Linked DNA regions of Homo sapiens: regions 2, 3 and 4 are each linked to region 1. Evidence: fine-mapped expression QTL. A gene starts in region 1. Each other region holds a variant in brackets. All regions are shown on one strand. Distances are from middle to middle. Region 1 holds the start of WDR86 (WD repeat domain 86). Region 2 overlaps CRYGN (crystallin gamma N). Region 3 overlaps WDR86 (WD repeat domain 86). Region 4 holds the start of CRYGN (crystallin gamma N).

Region 1 (4,156 bases):
AGTAGTTGGAATTACAGGCGCCCGCCACCACGCCCAGCTAATTTTTTGTATTTTTATTAGACACAGGGTTTCATCATGTTGGCCAGGCTGGTCTCAAACTCCTGACCTCTGGTGATCCACCCACCTTGGCCTCCCAAAGTGTTGGGATTACAAGTGTGAGCCACCGAGCCTGGTCAACTGTTCTTATTTAAAACCAGCAGTATCAGGATTAGCCAATATTGGGGCTAATATCCTACCTAAGTTGGAAGGCCTGGGCGAGGCCACAGAGAGTTCACTGATGATGGTGGAAAAGCCCGCGGTGATAAAGAACTACCCACAGCAGAAAGCCTCGCGGCTCATCCAGGGGACTACGTGTGCTACCTGGGCAGTAGGAGGGCCAGAGCTGAAAGGGACCTCACAGTGCATGGGACAGGCCCAGGGGAAGGTGCACCCGAGGCACACTGACCTCCTGAGTGAGTACAGGGCACAAATAGAAACCAACAGGCATGCAGGCAGGGTTTACAGCAATGAGAGGGCTCAGACTGCCATCTACCCCTCACTGGCTGTGCGACCTGGGCGAATTACTTAACTCCCAGCCTGTTTCCACGTCTGTATGTGGGGTAACATAGTGTGACGACGGCACACTTCTCCGCACCGCTGGCCCTTAACAAGCGTCTACTGTTGCTGTGAGAGTCGTCAACAGGAAATGCCAGCAGAAGAGCACAATTGGCCACAAAGAGGCCACAAGGCACCTAGAGACAAGGGAAGGTTTGCTTAGAAGGAGTATAGGTGCAACTTTTTGTTTGTTAACATTGTTGTCAAGGGAGATTTCCTGCCGCTGGTTGACAAATGATCTTCGCCTTTGTAGCGGACGCCCCTCGACCCACCCACCCGATCCCGGCCGCACCCTGCTCTGCACCCGCACCCCACCCCCAGACCTCACCCTGCCCTGCCGTGCGCTCAACAGCCAGATGCTGGGCCCAGACAAGCGCTCTTCCGCTAGTGTGCCGGGATGAGCGGGGGCTGGACTTCTAGAAAGGGGTCTGCGGGCGCAGGAGCTGGGGTCCGCGGTCTGGGGCCGGTGAGCTGCGGCGAAGAGGTCAGGGAGGGAGTGGGAGGGTCTACCTTGCAGGAGCGCGCAGCACTGGCCGTCCGCGGTGCTCCAGAGCCGGGCCGTGCCGTCCTCGCTGCCCGTCAGCAGGCGCTGCCCGTCGGGGCTCAGGCTCAGCCAGTTGATGCCCCCGCGGTGGTCGGCGCAGACCCTCAGGGCCGACCCGCCGCCCCCCATCCCGCTGGCAGGGCGGGGAACAAGAAGGAGCTGCGCCCCGCTAGGGAGGGGCGCCCCGGGGTCCGCGCGGCGGCTCCGTACGACTGCGGCCCGCGGCCATCGCGGGGAACGGGGAGCCCGACTCCTGCGGAGGCACGCGGCGAGGGGAGGGTGAAGGACCCTAGCTCCCCGCTGCCTCCAGCCTCTGGGCCCGCGAACCCAGGGCGCTGCGGGGGGCGGCCCACTCGGGACCTCCGCCCTGGGTAGAGTCCTGGGCGCGCGGGCAGAGAGAACCCCCTTCCCAGCACCGCTCGGAGGATCCACACCCCACCGGGCGAACAAGGCAGCTGCGTCTCTGGTGCACAAGGAGCCCCCCGCCTCCTCTCGCGCCCACGGGGCTGGGGCGGGGAGAGGAACACGGGAAGCCGAGCGCCCCGCGCCCTCCCCGGCCGAGCGCGGAACAATACGGTCCAGCCTGGCTCCTCCTCAGAGACCACCCCTCACCCGATCCCCTCCCACTTCTCGGGCTGCGCCCCAGCCCCCACCCCGCGCGCCTGCAGCCTCCCCCCTTCGTCGCTGTGCGGGTCCGGGGGACGGCTCCACGTGCGACCCTCCTAGCTGCCCGGGCTGCGCCTCTGGGCTCTGGCCTCTGCCACCTCCGCCGCCGCCGCCTGGGTCCCCTGAGCCAAGGGCCGGGACGAGGGAGGGGGAGGCGGACAAAGGGTCGGGGTCGGGGAGAATCGCGCGCCGGGAACTCATTTGGGGCGCAGCTCCACCGACCCCTCGGCTACTCGCCTCCACCAGGCAAGCCAGGTCCTCCCATGCTCTGAGCCCTAAGGACTCTGCCCGAGGGGCTCTCGGGGACTTGGGGGCGGTCCCCCAATGGAGGGTGCGACAGGGAAAGCCCCGAGTCCGCCCTCCCTGGGAAATCACGCGCACACCCAGGATTCTACTTTGGTCTGGCCGGAGTGGGGATGAGGTGCGAGCCGCTGCGGGGTCGGTGGAGCCGGGATGTCAAGTTCACCTTCCAGCCGCCGCGGGCTCCCTCGGCCTGGGGCGCCTCTAATGGACCCCGGGGTCGGCCTGAGCCCTCCCGGAGCGCCCGGCGGCTGGTTTCCATTAGGGCAGTTCCGGCGCCGACTTCGCTGGGGACGGGGAAGGTGACCCCCCTACTCGGATCCCCCAGGTCCTAAAGGTAGCAGGATTTCCAGAACGCTCCAGGGCTCTCTCAGGAGCCTAGGGAGAAGGGCAAGGAAGGGGCGTCTTTGGCGAGCTAGCCCGCAATGGGACGACCAGTACTGCACGCTCTGCTCTATCCAGACTCCAAAAGAAAACCCCATCGTGGGGTGTCCCAGGCCGTTGGGTCGTTTATACCCAGAGTGGCCTAACCAGAGAAATCCGTTCTTTTCCCTCAAAACTTGTAAAGCAGCTGGCGCCTCAGCTTAAGGAGCGTGGCCCTTCCTTAGCAGGTGGTGGAGAGAGGGGCAGTGGAGGAGCGTTAGGACGAGATTTGGGGTCATCCAGCCGGAGAGAGGGAGGCCGAAAGGAGAGACGTTTTCAGGAGGTGGAGGCTTCAGCATTTGGATGCCTGCGAGGCGGGAGAGGCCGGGGAGCCTGTCTTGTGCTGAGAGGCTGGGTAGACTGTTTTGTCCCCTACAGGCTGATCACCAGTTCCTCTTAGGAACCGGTGAACCTCAGGGGGCCCATTGCACATCCAGGTGTGAAACTGCGGTGTGGCCTCCAGGTGAGGACAGACTCGGTATAGTGGGGATCTTGGGCAGGCCCTGCGGCTGCAGCCCTTGGGGAAGGTGAATGTGAGGACCATGGAGGCTGGGAGGGTTTATCCGGAGAAGTGCCAGAGGAAACCCAAACTTTCTGGGCAGAGGGGCCAAGGAGAACCAGGCATCGACTCTTTTGGAAACTAAGAGGGGAGGGGTTTGAAAGCAGTTTGGGAGCTGGGGACAGATCGTAGGTTGGGCGAGCTTGCCTGGTCGTGGGCCAGAGGAAAGAACCACCAGGAGAAAAGCTTAACTTTCAAGGAGGTCACCCAGGATTCCTGAGCAAGGTGGCACCCATGCACTCTGGTTCCTCTCCTCTGCAGCCAACACAAGCCATCAGCCCCATGCTCAGCTCCCAGCAGGCAGAGCGTTCAGAAGCGCCAGCGCCATCATCTTGGGAGCCTGCAGTCCACACACCGCTGACCTTACCTACTTCCTCTTTCCAGGTTGATAGATTTTTTGTTCTTGGCTTCTCCACCTCCCCCACCCCTCCTTCTCCGGTTTGGCACAAAGTGGCCCCCTGGTGGGGATGAGCCAGCCATCTCTGGGGGTTGAGTCTGGACTGTAGAGCTGTGGGTGCAGATGTCCTCAGCCAGCCTGTCTTCCCTTTTCTCTTGCAGGTCGTAGATTACAGACTCTCCTCTGGGAAATTGCCCCCAGATCTAACAGGAGTACAAGAAGCTGGGTAGATTGGAAAACAGCACCGAATTCCCCTGGAACTGAGGTCTCCCCTAATTCCCCTGAAACTGGGGTCTCCCCCAACCTCCACCTTAAGATAGCAAAGCTATAGAGACCCAGGAGTCAGGCTGGGTCCCCAGCAGAACCTGGGCTCCCTTCCCCTTTCACACCTTTAACTCTTCTGGAGCCTCCAAGAGGGCCTGGAGTCCCGTGGTGCCCAGGCCCTCCTGGACCTAATCACTTTATAAATGGAAGGCACCTTGGGAAGGGAACCTGGTAGGGTGTAGGAGGAAATGGTTAAGCTTTAAGAAGCAAGAAATGGGCAGTGTTTAACAAGTGAAGGGTTGGGGGGCGGGTGCATTTTGTGCCAGGGAGTGCTCATTCCCCGTGCCACAGGGACTGCCACAATTTACCCTGCTGGAAAGAGTGACCCTCTGGGGCCTCTCTGAGAAGC
Region 2 (4,156 bases), 19 kb after region 1:
CCACAGGATCCTTTTAAATCACAATTCCAAAGCGGGCTGTCCACAGGCAAGGAAGCCAGGAGCCTGTTCACACAAATGCTCGCTGTTCAGGGCAGGCTGCCCAAGTCACCCCTTCCTGGTGTCCCCAGACCTGGGCTACTAAGTCCTGGGGGTCCGGAAGGCAGGGTTAGTCCCAGGTAACCACAGGGACGCTCCAGGGATCCCTGCTGAAGGACAAGGACCTTCTCCTCCTCCTCCTCTTCCTCCTCCTGCATCTCAGCCTCCCCAGCAGCCACAGCCAAGAGCCCTGCCAAGCCGATGGGACCCACGCAATCAATAAGCAGGTGATAGCTTCTTCAGGTAGGGAATGTGGGGCATGGTCGCACAGGAGACCCACAGGGTTCCCTGGGATCCAGCGAGGGCCTTCATTCCCACATTGCCCCCAACAGTCCTGAGCACCTCAGCAACAAGGAGTTAATTTTTTTTGATTATGGCAAAATACACATACAATTTATCATCCTAACCATTTGAAGTGTGTGGTTGAGTGGCATTAAGTACACACACATAGTCGTGCGGCCGTCAGCACCATCTGTCTGTCTCCAGAAGTCTGTCATCTTCACAAACTGAAACTCTGGAGCTAAACCTTTAAAACTGTCTCATTTGACAAGTTTTTTGTTAGTTTGTCTTTTTCTTTCTTCTTTTTTTTTTTTTTTTTTTGACGTCCCTGGGCTCAAACTCATCCAACAGGCTTTGATTGAAGATCTGTTGTGGCTTCCTGGGGGGAACACAGGCAGGACAGCCCTGCTCTTAAGGCACCCAGTGGGGTGAAGAGGTGAGCCAAGAAGCCTCCAGCCAAGAAGGCGGTAGCCTGCCAGGCGCAGGCCACCTCGGGGCATGGGAGGGAGGCCCAGGAAGGGGAAGGGGCCAACAGAGACTTCTTGGACCAGCCCTTGGCTGGTGAGAGGAACTTCTTGGTGCGGGGGATGGGGTGGCTGGGGGGATTCAAAGGGAATGTTTTTCCTGTGGTCAGACTGGGCCTGATAAACAGTGCACGGGGGGCCAGCAGGGCAGGGGGACCTAGGGCTGAGGACATGAGGGGATGGCTCTGTGAAAGTCCCAGCTTTCCAAACCACAGAGGGAGGTAGAAATATGTGAAGCATGTGTGGCTCTTGAGGGCCTCTCACCCTCGGTCCATCGACCCCTGGACGGACTTCAGATAAATTACAAGCTGCCCACAAGCACTTTGGTGGGAATCTTGTTTTTCCTCTTTCAGACAAAAAGCAGATTTGCTGACAGATTAGGGAGCAGGGGGCTGGGGTGAGGGGGAGGTCACCCAGGAGCACAAAGCCCATTCGAGAAGCATTAAATCACCAGTTAATGAGATGCTGCTAAGCCTTGGTGCTGGGGAGGAGAGGAAGAGTTCAGGGGAAGCCTCTGGAACTCATGGGAAGGGCTGCTAGGCCTGGTTTTTCCCGTGACTCCCAAGGACCTGGACTGAACCGGTGGGGCCTGCAGTTCTCATTTCATTCCCCAGGCATTAATTGCCTATGAGGGGGCGGAATGATTACCACTGCTGTACGTCTGAAGACACTGAGACACACAGCAGTGGCTTCTCCAATGTCACATCCTAGTGAGGGATGGAGTGGGAATCAGGTTGGAGTTTGGAGCCAAGTTACCTTCTCTCCTGTGATGCCACTCCCCTGCCTGCTTCCCCACCCCGTCACCTACTGGGTCACCTACTACTAACCAGCCCTCATATGGCACCCGCTCATGGGTCACGCCTTTGGCTTTTACAAGGGTATACAGTTGGTACAGCAGACATGATTGCACTCATTTCACAGAACAGGGTCTGAGGCCTGGAGAGGCTTTGGGTTTGCGCCAAATTCATGACAAAAATATATCTAAATATGCAAATGTGTGGTGCTCTATAGAGGAGTGGTTAGGAACGAAAAGGATCAATCAGCCAGCCAGACCTGGGTTTTAGTCCTGACTGCTGTGTGACCCTGGGCAAGTTGCTTAACCTGTCTGTGGCTGGCTCTCCTCAACTGTACAGTGGTGATAAGCATATCATCTTGGCATTATTGTATATGATAAGTAAAATTACACAGATTCCAGCTACTACAGAGCCTGGCATTAAGTCAGTGCTCCATAAATATTCATCAACATCATCACCATCATCAGCTGTGGGCTGAGGTGCGAGATTGTGGAGGCCTGAGGCCAGCAGGGTGCCAAGGCCCAAGGAGGCTGTGGGGTGGAGGGTTGGACGGCTGTTTCAGAAGAGACAGGGCCCTTGCCATGGGTGGGGAGGGCCTCCCGCTGGCAGATATGACACACAGAAGGCTCCACCTCCCTAACAAACTGGCAGAGAAATGAAAACTGAGGGCATGATTTTAAGTAAACACTCTCCCGGCTCAGAAACGGTGCAGGTGCATTTACATGTCAATCGGTTCCAGGCTCAGAGGTTTGCAGTCAGGAAAGGTGGCTGGGTTGTTGCTGGTTTTGT[G/T]GTGGCCTCTTCCGGTCCTTGATCTGATTGAAGAGAGCTGCTCAGCTGGAAGTCCTCAGCTCCGAAGCTTCTAGGGCTCCATGCTCTGTGGTTTGCAGGTGAAAGGAGGTGGGGCCAGGGCATTAGGGGTACAGAGCAGGCCTTTTGGGGACCCATCTACCACATGGCAGCAGGGAGCCCCTTCCCCTTTCCTGGGCGGAGTGGACGGTTGCCTAGTGGTTTCATGTCTTCATTTGGCCTCGGCTGTCATGGGACAGCCTACGGGGGTCCCACAGCAGTCATGGGGCCCCTCCGTCTTTGCCACCCAGCTCTTGGTGGGGAATTGTCTTGGGTGAATTGGGTGACCCATCGTGACTCTTTTTCCATTGCTCTCTCAGTGAGGGATGGGGAGAGGTTGGAGGACACCCAGGAACGGGACAGCCATCCCCTGGCCCACCACACTCAGGCCACCACACTGTGCGACAGAATCAGCCCCTGAGATTTTGTTTTTCTCTCGGGAACCCTGTGTTCCCTCGCTGAGCTCCCTGCCGTACTCCATCACCCCCTAGGCCTGTCGGGGTGTCTCAGTTCAACTCAGATAGTAACCCAGGGCTCATGGGCTTTCCCTCGGAGTCCTGAGCTGGGCGACCAGCCTAGAGGGGCTGATCCCCAGTCCAAACCCCTCCATCTACTCAGAAAACTGGAGTAAGATGTATGGTGAGGAGGACCCGGGAACTGAGAGGCCAGTCGGGAGCCAGTTGGTTGGGGGGACTCTGGGATCGCAGTCGGGGATTAGAGGCTGGACCAGGAGTCAGATCCACAGCCAGAACTCTGTGGGCACACGGGTGATCCAACCCATGCACCTGGCCCCCCACTGATCCCTCATCCAGCCAGGCCTTGGTCCAGGCACAGGCCATGTGGACATCTTTGGGGTCTCCATGTCCAGGAGCCCCCATGCTCAGGAATCTCGGGTCCAGGGCCCCTGTGTTCTCCTCAGAAGCCCAGAGCACTCCATCTGTTGCCTCCTTCTGGGGTGGGCTATGGTTTCCTCACAGGCAGGCTCCATTCAGGACTCTGCTGGAGGGCTGCCGGCAGCAGGGAGTTACCTGGGCCACCCCCAGGGACCAGAGTTCCCCTCGTGGGACCTTTCCTCTCTCCCCAGTGAGTTGGAAGCATAGGCGTGGGTGGGGAGGGAGTGGGGGGATGCTTTTGGGGACGTGGACCTCTTATGCCCAGGAATCCCACTGCCTGGGCCGAGTATCTCCTTCCAGGACAGACTTCTCCCTCCCCTCTGCCCCTCAAGGGTGGGGTGTCCCCTCTAGATTCAAGCCCACCCCAACAGGAGGACCCAGTGTCCTGGAGAGGGCCCAGGAATGGAGGAATTCTACAGGCGAGCGCTTGGTGCTGCACCAGCTGAAGACGCGAGCCGCCGGTTCTGGGTCTGCCAGCCCTACTGCTCCAGGGGCTATGGCTGCAGCAGACACGCCCCATGCCCCTTTCTCCCCGAAAGCCCCTCCATTCCCACAGAGCCCACCTGTTCAAGCTAAGCCCCCACCCTGACACTCACCACCACTAACTGTTTTCTCTCTCGCAGGAGAGGGGTCTGCCCTGGGTCGAAACCATCCTTCCAGAGGGGTCTCCCTTAGAAACTCCGAGGCCAAGATTAGCCATGAGGATAAAACCCAGAGATCAGAC
Region 3 (4,156 bases), 29 kb before region 1:
CTGGGTTTCTCTGGATGGCTTGATGCATGCTCCATTCTCTGCTGTGGGGAGATAAGGTGGGGACTGGAGCTGACGTGTCAGTGAGGGGCTGCTCAGGCCAGAGCGCAGCATCACCAAGCAGCAGTGTCTTCGGCAAGCAGGAGTCAGTGTGAACGTCTGTGCAGGCTCAGGGCCGGCCGGCAGCACTGCCCGCAGGCAGCACTCAAGGCGGTTCTCTGGCCTGCGCCACCGGAACCGTCCCTTCAGCACGATGGAAAGGTCCTCTCTGGTAGGTATGCCCCTTGTGGCAGCCACAGGCCCCAATGGCTCCGGGACGCAGCAAGACCTGGCCACCCCCGAGGTCTGTGTGTGCTTAAGTCTCACCCGGAGAACAGTGCATGGTGCCGTTTCTGCGGGTTCTCCTGCACCGATCTGCTTGCCTCCCAACAGGCCCATTTTCCTGGGGTGGGGGTCGGGGGCACTTTGGTTCCCAGGGTTTGGAGGTTTGGCCTAGAGGAGTTACAGCGCCTGCGTCCTTTCCTTCCTACTGCCCACAGTGCAATCCCTACCTGTTCATCCGCGCCCGAGGGCGGACCCGCCCATCACCTAGCAGGTGATCCCTGGCGGCCCCGGCCGTCTCTGATGAAGTATCTTCTGCATTAAGACTATGAAGCGCATGCTGCTCTACCTGAAAGGGCTGCTCCACTTGAAGGGGCTGCTCCACTTGAAGGGGCTGCTCCTGCAGCAGGTGCTTCTCTCTGCAGCGAGATGATGAGCTCTCCACGGCAGACACTGTCACCTGCAGCTTCTCTCCTGGCACCCGGGCCAACCGGGGCACATGGATGCAGAAAGTGGCACCATCAAGGGACTGAAGAGCACCCCGCTCAGGTGCTGTGAGGGGTGCTGAGGGGTCTCCTGCAGGGCCCCTCGGCAGACTGAGCCCCACTGGCCCCTCGAGCCCCTGGGCACAGGGCTCCCCTTGGGTGCCCGGTGGCTCTGGCATGTGTGTTGCGCCTTCCAGCACCAGGCGCTGCCCTGGCTCCTGTGCACGAGCCCGGGGTGGGGCTGCTGCCCGCCCCCACCCCTCCTTCCACTCCAGGCCCTGAACGGACTTCCTAGATTCATGCCAGAAAATGACATGCCAGAAAATGACCCTGCTCCCAAGCAGGGTCCCCGCTGTCACCTGCACAGGCTAAAGAGCTCCTCCCTTGCTCCCCGGCCTCTTCCCCATCCACTTCCTGCACCAGTGACACTGGGGGCAGCCCCGCAGCGCACCCACAAGTCACCCCCAAGGCTGCCCAGGCCGGTTGTGAGAGGCAGAGGGCAGGAGGCCCGCCGCCCTGGGTTCCTGGAATCCCAAGCTCCAAAAAGAAGCTGAGACTCAGTTTGCAAAACAAAAAGAGGACACAGGAGCACTTTTAACGTTCAGGCTGTATATTTCAGTTCCCCCCAAGGCCCTCGAGACGGACGATTTGCCAAAATAACCAGGTTCAGTGGCTTCTGTAAAAAGTCACTTCCTCTCAGCAGGAAAGGCCCAGTTTCGTGGGGCTGGGGGAGCTGGGGCAGTCCGCCTGCAGCCCCTGAGGTGGGAGGGTCCCCAGGACTAGGCCTTTCGCCAGGTCAGGGATGGGGAGGGAGGACAGGAGCCACCCTAAAAGGGAAAAGGGGGCGGTCCCCAGGGCGAGCACTCCCGCTCCCAGCGCCTCCTGGCCACCAAAGAAAAACCAGACGCCTGCGACGGGCTCTCCTCCCGCCCGGGCTTCCTCGCTCCTCGCCCCTCGCCGGCCATCGGGCGCCACCACCGCGGGTAGCAGGGCGGGGCGCTCTGGGAGCCGCTGGGTGTCTGGGCTGGCGTCTGCAGGGGCCCCGCGGGATCAGGCCGGCTGCAGGGGCGCGGCGGCGCAGCCCACCTTGTTGCTGAAGAGCCGCGAGAGGCTGCGCATGGGCGGAGGGGGCCGCGGGGCACCTCGGAGCCCGCGCACGTCCCAGAGGCGCAGGGCGCCGTCGTGCGAGGCGGTGTAGAGCACCTGGCCGTGCACCTGCGGGCGCAG[G/A]GGCGGGCGTCACCGGTGACGCGGTAGGCGGGGGGGACACCGCTGCCCGCGTGGATGGATCGGGGCGGGGCACCTTCCCTCCCACGGGCGGCGGCCCCGAGAAGGGCAGAGGGACCTACCTGGATGCAGTTGATGATGAATGTGTGGCCCCGGAACACCCTCCGCAGCTCTCCAGACTGCGCGTCGAAGGCCCGGGCGCAAGCGTCCCCGCTGCCCGTGAACACTGCGGACACACAGCGCGCGCTGGGCCTCCCTCCCTGCTCGGCCCCCCGCAAGCAGGGATGGGGCGGCGAGAGCGTGACCTGGGGCGTCTCCGAGACTCCGCCCCACGGGGGTATCCTGAGGCTCATATGGGAAGTGGACAGTGCCCCTCCAGAGAAACGGGTCCCCACGGTTATTCTGCTCCACCCTGCAGATGCCTGCGCGCCAGCTGGCCCTGCCCCTGCCCTGCTGAACACCGCCCGGGCCCAGTCCCCACTCCGCGGTTTGGTGAAGTTGGTTTCCGTGCCTGCTTGGGAAGCCCCTGCCTGGGGATAATCGTCAGGTCCTCGAGTCGCTTCCCCCCTACCTTCCGCTGCGTCGGCAACCTTATCCTCCCGTCCTCATTAACGGATCGGCACTCAAATCAAAGCCCAGCCCTCTGGGGTTCATGATCACGCACCCCCGGGACCCCTAGCGGGGGCGAGCCTCCGACCTCAGTCTGTCTCCTCCCCCAGGTGGCTGCCTCTCCCTGGGGTTTCTCCTAAGATTTCAGTCCAATCGTTTTCCAACTGCAACCTGCATTTGCATCCGTCACTTGGAGGTCTTAGCCACAGATCGCGGGGCCGCATCCCAGAATCTGATTTAGCAGGCGGGGCCTGAGAATCGGCATTTCTAACCAGTTTTAAGTGATGCTGCTGCTAGTCAGGAGGCCACACTGAGGATGTGGACTAGAAGAACTCACTTGGCCTAGGCTGGGCTCTCCGAAGCCGACCCTGATGCTAGGACTTGATGCAGACAGTTCACCTGGCAGGCGTCCCAGGAAACGCTCACAGGGAAATGGGAGATGGAAAGGGAGGGAGGAAGTCCTGTGGGGTCTGTCAATGAGCAGGTAACTACGGTGGGCAGCTATGGTGCAAGCCTGCCAGGGACCTTGGGGAAAAGGGGTAGGACCACCTGAGGGTAAGGGTGCTGGGCTACCTATCTATCTGAGGGTGCTCTGTGGGTACTTGTTCCCCAGCCTTTTTTTTTTTTTTTCTTACAGGGAGACAGGGTCTCACTCTGTTGCCGAGGCTGGAGTGCAGTGGTACCATCTTAGCTCACTGTTAACCTTGAACTCCTGGGCTCAAACGATCCTCCCGCTTCAGCCTCCTGAGCAGCTGGGACCACAGGCATGCACCACTACACCCAGCTAATTTTAAAAAAAACGGGGCGGCGGGGTGGGGGGGGGGAGCTGGGCACAGTGGCTCACGCCTGTAATCTCAGCACTTTGGGAAGCTGAAGCTGGCAGAGCAGATCATGAGATCAGGGGTTTGAGACCAGCCTGGCCAACATGGTGAAACCCTGTCTCTACTAAAAATACAAAAATTAGCTGGGTGTGGTGGCACACACCTGTAGTCCCAGTTACTTAGGAGGCTGAGGCAGGAGAATCACTTGAATCTGGGAAGTGGAGGTGGCAGTGAGCCTAGACTGCGCCATTTCACTCCAGCCTGGGCCACAGAGCAAGACTCCGTCTCAAAAAAAAAAAAAAAAAAATGTTTGTAGAGACAGGGTCTTGCTATGTTGCTCAGGCTGGTCTTGAACTACTGAGCTCAAGAGATCCTCCCGCCTTGGCTTCCCAAAGTGCTGGGATTACAGGCATGAGCCACGGTGCCCAGCCTGTTCCAGCCTTTTTGTTAAAACTACAGAGTGAATGGCCCCAGAGGGGAAGTTTCATTTCTGGGTCTCTTTTCAGCCCCTTTCTGCCTTCCCCCCACAAACTCAGACAAATGGACATGGCCTGGAAAACCCAGTGTGGCTGCTGAGCTCCCCGCGGGTGGGAAGAGGATCAAAAACAAAGTCTGATCATCCCATAGCCTTGCTGGCCAAGACCAAGAACCGAGCTGGGCAACAGTGAGCTGCAGGCTTCGCTTTCCCTGCGGGCTCCA
Region 4 (4,156 bases), 31 kb after region 1:
AACACGAGAATTGCCCTTCCAGGCCCCTTGGAGTCAGGCGTGGCCACATGCGTTCACCGGAAAGGAGGCAGACACCTTGGCGTTCTGCACCCCAGAGTTACTGGGGCCCTTTGTTACTGAAGCATCACCTGGCCCATGCAGACTGATACAGCAACACAGTCACCCCCAGACACTCTGGAATGTGGCCTTGGAGACCAAAGGCTTCATGGGAGTGGCTAGGCTAGGGGCACTGGAGAGGGCGAGGGAGAGCCAGGTCTCCCGTCCTTCCTGCACCAGGCACGGCTGGTAGAGGGCCCCTGAAACCTTCAGGGAGGTCTGGGCACCAAAGGGATTCGGGGCTCCCTCAAATCTCAACATTTTTCAGAGAACCAGCCCTAAGTGTCCCTGAAGAGACCCTGGGAAGGAAAAGCCATAGAGGCCAGCCTTGGGCAAAGAAGCCGCAGCAGTGGGGCGGAGGGCTGTGGGACAAGCCAAGCCTCCCCCACCCCAAGGAAGCCCCAGGGAGTCTGAACACCCTCCCTGCTCCTGACTGCAGGGCGAGGGGTTGGAATCCCAGAAGGAAGGAGTGGAGATGGAGACCTTCCTATCCATCCACACCAGAGAGGCCCCAGGCCAGTAGCGAGGCCACCCCATTTTATTAAGAAATTAAACCAGCTTCCCTTGGATTTGTCACCATCAACAGTGTGCACCCTCCTGCATCCCCTAGCACAGGGGGCGAAGGCGGAGCCCCACTCGGTTTCCTTGGGGTTGAGGGACGCACTCACCTTCCCCGAGCGCTGCGCCATGGTGCGCCCCGCCCCTTCCGCGGGTCCCCGTTTACACCGGGCAGCGCCCTGCTGGCTCAGCGCCGCCCCGGACAAAAGATTTGCTGGGCCGGCCCCGGAGCGTTAGTGCTGTCGGGCGTGCTAAGCCCGAGGGGCCACCAGGCGGTTGGGACCCGCCGCGGCCACCCTGTGCCACCGCGAGTGCAGCCCGCCCTGCCCGGGGTCTCCCTGTGCTCTCCGCGTTTAGCTCCCGAGCCTCCTTCCTCCCTGAGCCCTCCCGCCCAGCCCGCGGCTGCCCCTGCCCTGCCCTGGAGTGGTGGGGGGAGGAGGGGAGGTGTCTCTCTAGCCCTCCAACCTTTCTTCCCCTGCGCTGCCCCTCAGCCCTCACGCCCATCTCCCTCCCTCCCAAGGCCTGTTCCGAGCTCCCCAGCCCACTCCCCTTTCTCACCTGGCTGCAGGTAGTCTCGCCTTGGTGCCAACTTGTTTGTCTCCACGAGGATGCAACCCAAGCTTCCCCGGACAGACAGACAGCCCTTGACCGCCCCTCCCCTGGCTGCTCTGGTCTGAGCTCCCAGGTCCCCACCTTAGACCTCCGGCTCCAACTCACCCAGCTCCTGATGCACCCCCCCACACCCCACAAAACGCCAGGCCAGGTCAGGCCTCCCTCCTCCCGCTCTCTTCCTGCCTGCCTCCCTCCCTGGCACTCTCCCTCCCTGGGTCCCTCTCTCCTTGAAGATCCTGCCTAGGGTGACCAGGTGACCCGCGCTGCCCTGAGCTGGGGGTACAGTGCTCTGCCCCTTGCCTCTCTGCTGCACCAACTAAGCCACCCTGGACGCCCAGGATCAGTTTACAGCACAAAGCAGCCCCACCGCGGAGGGAGAGTTCCCCAGGGCCCAGAACGAGCACTTGGCAGACAGCAGAGGCTCAGAGATTGTGGAGTGAGCAGAGCGAACATGGAGCCCACAGGATGTGCAGCCCCCACACGGCTGGGGAGATGAGCTGGGAACACAGGACTCATGACTCAGATGGCTGGGGTGGTGGGGGACAGGCTCTGAGATCAAAGGAGAGAGGGGCAGGTGCTCCACAGGGGCTTCTGCTGGAGGGGAGGGAGGAGCTTTGGGGAGGAGTTTGGGCTGCTCTTCCTTCAAACAGTATATTTTTATGACCATTTCACAGATGAGACACTGAGGCCCAGGAAGAGGAGGTTATGTGATTCTTGGGGCAGAGGGGTGACCTTGCCTCTGCTGTGGGAGGTTTTCAAAAGTAGACAGGGTACAAACCAGAACCTGCATGTCACCCTTGAACCCAGGGACGGTCCTCCCTAGGGACGCCCCTCCCTAGGGACGCCGCCCAGCTGCCTCCACTGGCGCCCTTACTTGCCAAGCCACACATTCCAATGTTTCTCTCTGGACCTGGGCCCTGGTGGGGACATAAAATTAAAAACAAAATCTCCAGCCAACCCAGAAAACTTCTCCACGAAGGTAGAAGGAAAAAAAAACAATTTTATTATTGAATAAACTTTAAACTGGAATGCGATCTGCATCACGATCTCTCCCCTAAGAGATCGCAAAGATGGAGAGAGATCTCACTCTTCTGTAGCCAAGCAGACACAACCCACTGCATTCATGTTTTCAGGATAAAATTGCTGATTTTCTTGTATCTCTATGACTGGAGGTGGGTTTTGCAATTTGGAGTCAGGTGACAGCTGAAGTCAGGCTTCT[T/C]AGGAAACGGGGAGGGTGGGGGCACTTACTCCTTGATGTCAAGACTCAAAGAGGCTCCCAGAGGAAACATGACTGAGTTGTTAGACTGGCAAGAGGCTTGTTTAGCCATTAAAAAGATTTACACACATTTGAAAATGACAGAGAAGGAAATTCTGCAAGAAAAGGGAGGAAAGGGAAGCCTCTTCCCTTATTTTCAACAGGGAAAAATAAGCCTTAAAAAAAGGTTTTATTTTTTAGAGCAGCTTTAGGTTCAAGTTGAATTCAGCAAAAGGTACAGCAATTTCCTGTATACCCCCTGCCCCTACACACACACACACACACACACACACACACACACACACACACACAGAGCCTCCTCCACAATCAGCGCCCCCATTAGAGTGGTACATTTGTCACAGCCGATGAACCTATGTTATACATCGGGATACAGGATGAGAAGTTGAGAGAATGCGGCGTAGACTTTGTTAAAATAACACATTTTTAAAGCCTCCCCACATAATGTGGTTGATTTTTCACAGCTTGCTACTCTTTGTCCAGTTGAGTATGTAAGTGTTTGACTCTTAACTTTTTCTTTGGGTCTTCATCTCCTTATAAGGGCTCCCATGCCACATAAAACTTGTATTAAATAAGTTTGTATGCTTTTCTCTTGTTAATCTGTCTTAGGTCAATTTATTTCTCAGGCCCAGCCAGGACCCTAAGAGGATGGAGGTAGAACTTTGCTGCCTCTACAGTGTAATGCCATGGTTCCACCATTAGAGCACCAGGTAGAGTATTCTCACCACCTTAAAAGTCCCCTGTGTGGGCTGGGCACGGCGGCTCACACCTGTAATCCCAGCACTTTGGGAGGCCGGGGCGGGTGGATCACCTAAGGTCAGGAGTTTGAGACCAGCCTGGCCAACAGGGCGAAACCCTGTCTCTACTAAAAATACAAAAACTAGCCAGGCGTGGTGGCAGGCGCCTGTAATCCTAGCTACTCAGGAGGCTGAGGCAGTGAGAATTGCTTGAACCTGGAAGGTGGAGGTTGTAGTGAGCCAAGATTGCGCCACTGCACTCCAGCCTGGACGACAGAGTTAAACTCCGTCTCAAAAAAAAAAAAAAAAAGATAAAAAAAAAAGTCCCCTGGGCTCCATCTGTTTATCCCTCTCTCCCCCTTAACTCCTGGCAACCACTGATCTTTTTACTATCTTCACGGTTTTGCCTTTTTCAGGATGTCATGTATTTGGAATCTTACAGTATGTAGCTACTACGGTTTGAACGTGTCCCCCAAAACACATGTGTTGGAAACTTAATCCCCAATGCAACAATGTTGAAAGATGCGGTCTCATGGGAAGGGTTTAGGTCATGAGGGCTTCACCCTCATTCATGGATTAACGCTGACCATAAAGGGCTACAAGGTCAACCGCTTGCTCTCTCTCACCCTCTCTTTGCCCTTCTCCCATGGGATGATACAGCAAGAAGGCCCTTGAAAGATGCCAGCACCGTGATGTTAGACTTCTCAGCCTCCAGAACTGTGAGCCAGTACATTTGTGTTCATTGTAAATTACCCAGTCTGTGGTATTCTGTTATAGCGGCACAAAACGGACTAAGACAGCAAGTAGCTTTCTCAGATTGGTTTCTTCCACTTAGTAATATGCATTTAAGATTCCCTCATATCTTTTCCTGGCCTAGTCT

What was found. PIP is the estimated chance that this variant, and not a neighbour inherited with it, causes the effect.
Region 2: its variant is fine-mapped to the expression of WDR86 in whole blood (TOPMed, PIP above 0.99).
Region 3: its variant is fine-mapped to the expression of WDR86 in whole blood (TOPMed, PIP above 0.99).
Region 4: its variant is fine-mapped to the expression of WDR86 in whole blood (TOPMed, PIP above 0.99). The same link has a PIP of 0.9 or more in blood mononuclear cells.

The regions. Positions count from the first base shown.
Region 1 is chr7:151,408,323-151,412,478 of GRCh38, forward strand. WDR86 (WD repeat domain 86) reads right to left here and starts at 1,716. Exons shown (of 6, transcript NM_198285.3): 1 at 1,105-1,716. The coding sequence starts at 1,267. WDR86-AS1 (WDR86 antisense RNA 1) reads left to right here and starts at 839. Exons shown (of 6, transcript NR_109857.1): 1 at 839-1,060; 2 at 2,906-2,990; 3 at 3,348-3,470; 4 at 3,645-3,748. RefSeq lists an enhancer at 2,282-2,914.
Region 2 is chr7:151,427,614-151,431,769 of GRCh38, forward strand. CRYGN (crystallin gamma N) reads right to left here. Exons shown (of 4, transcript NM_144727.3): 4 at 1,219-2,567. The coding sequence ends at 2,435. Among named protein-coding and RNA genes, the nearest start is that of MIR3907, 3.9 kb to the right of the region's middle. RefSeq lists enhancers at 898-1,417, 2,195-2,264, 2,585-2,784. The variant G/T (reference allele first, on the strand shown) is at 2,483.
Region 3 is chr7:151,379,729-151,383,884 of GRCh38, forward strand. WDR86 (WD repeat domain 86) reads right to left here. Exons shown (of 6, transcript NM_198285.3): 5 at 2,150-2,253; 6 at 1,396-2,018. The coding sequence ends at 1,854. Among named protein-coding and RNA genes, the nearest start is that of WDR86-AS1, 27 kb to the right of the region's middle. RefSeq lists silencers at 1,639-1,798, 1,819-2,058. The variant G/A (reference allele first, on the strand shown) is at 2,031.
Region 4 is chr7:151,439,133-151,443,288 of GRCh38, forward strand. CRYGN (crystallin gamma N) reads right to left here and starts at 1,009. Exons shown (of 4, transcript NM_144727.3): 1 at 765-1,009. The coding sequence starts at 785. RefSeq lists enhancers at 1-288, 289-789, 1,501-2,037. The variant T/C (reference allele first, on the strand shown) is at 2,486.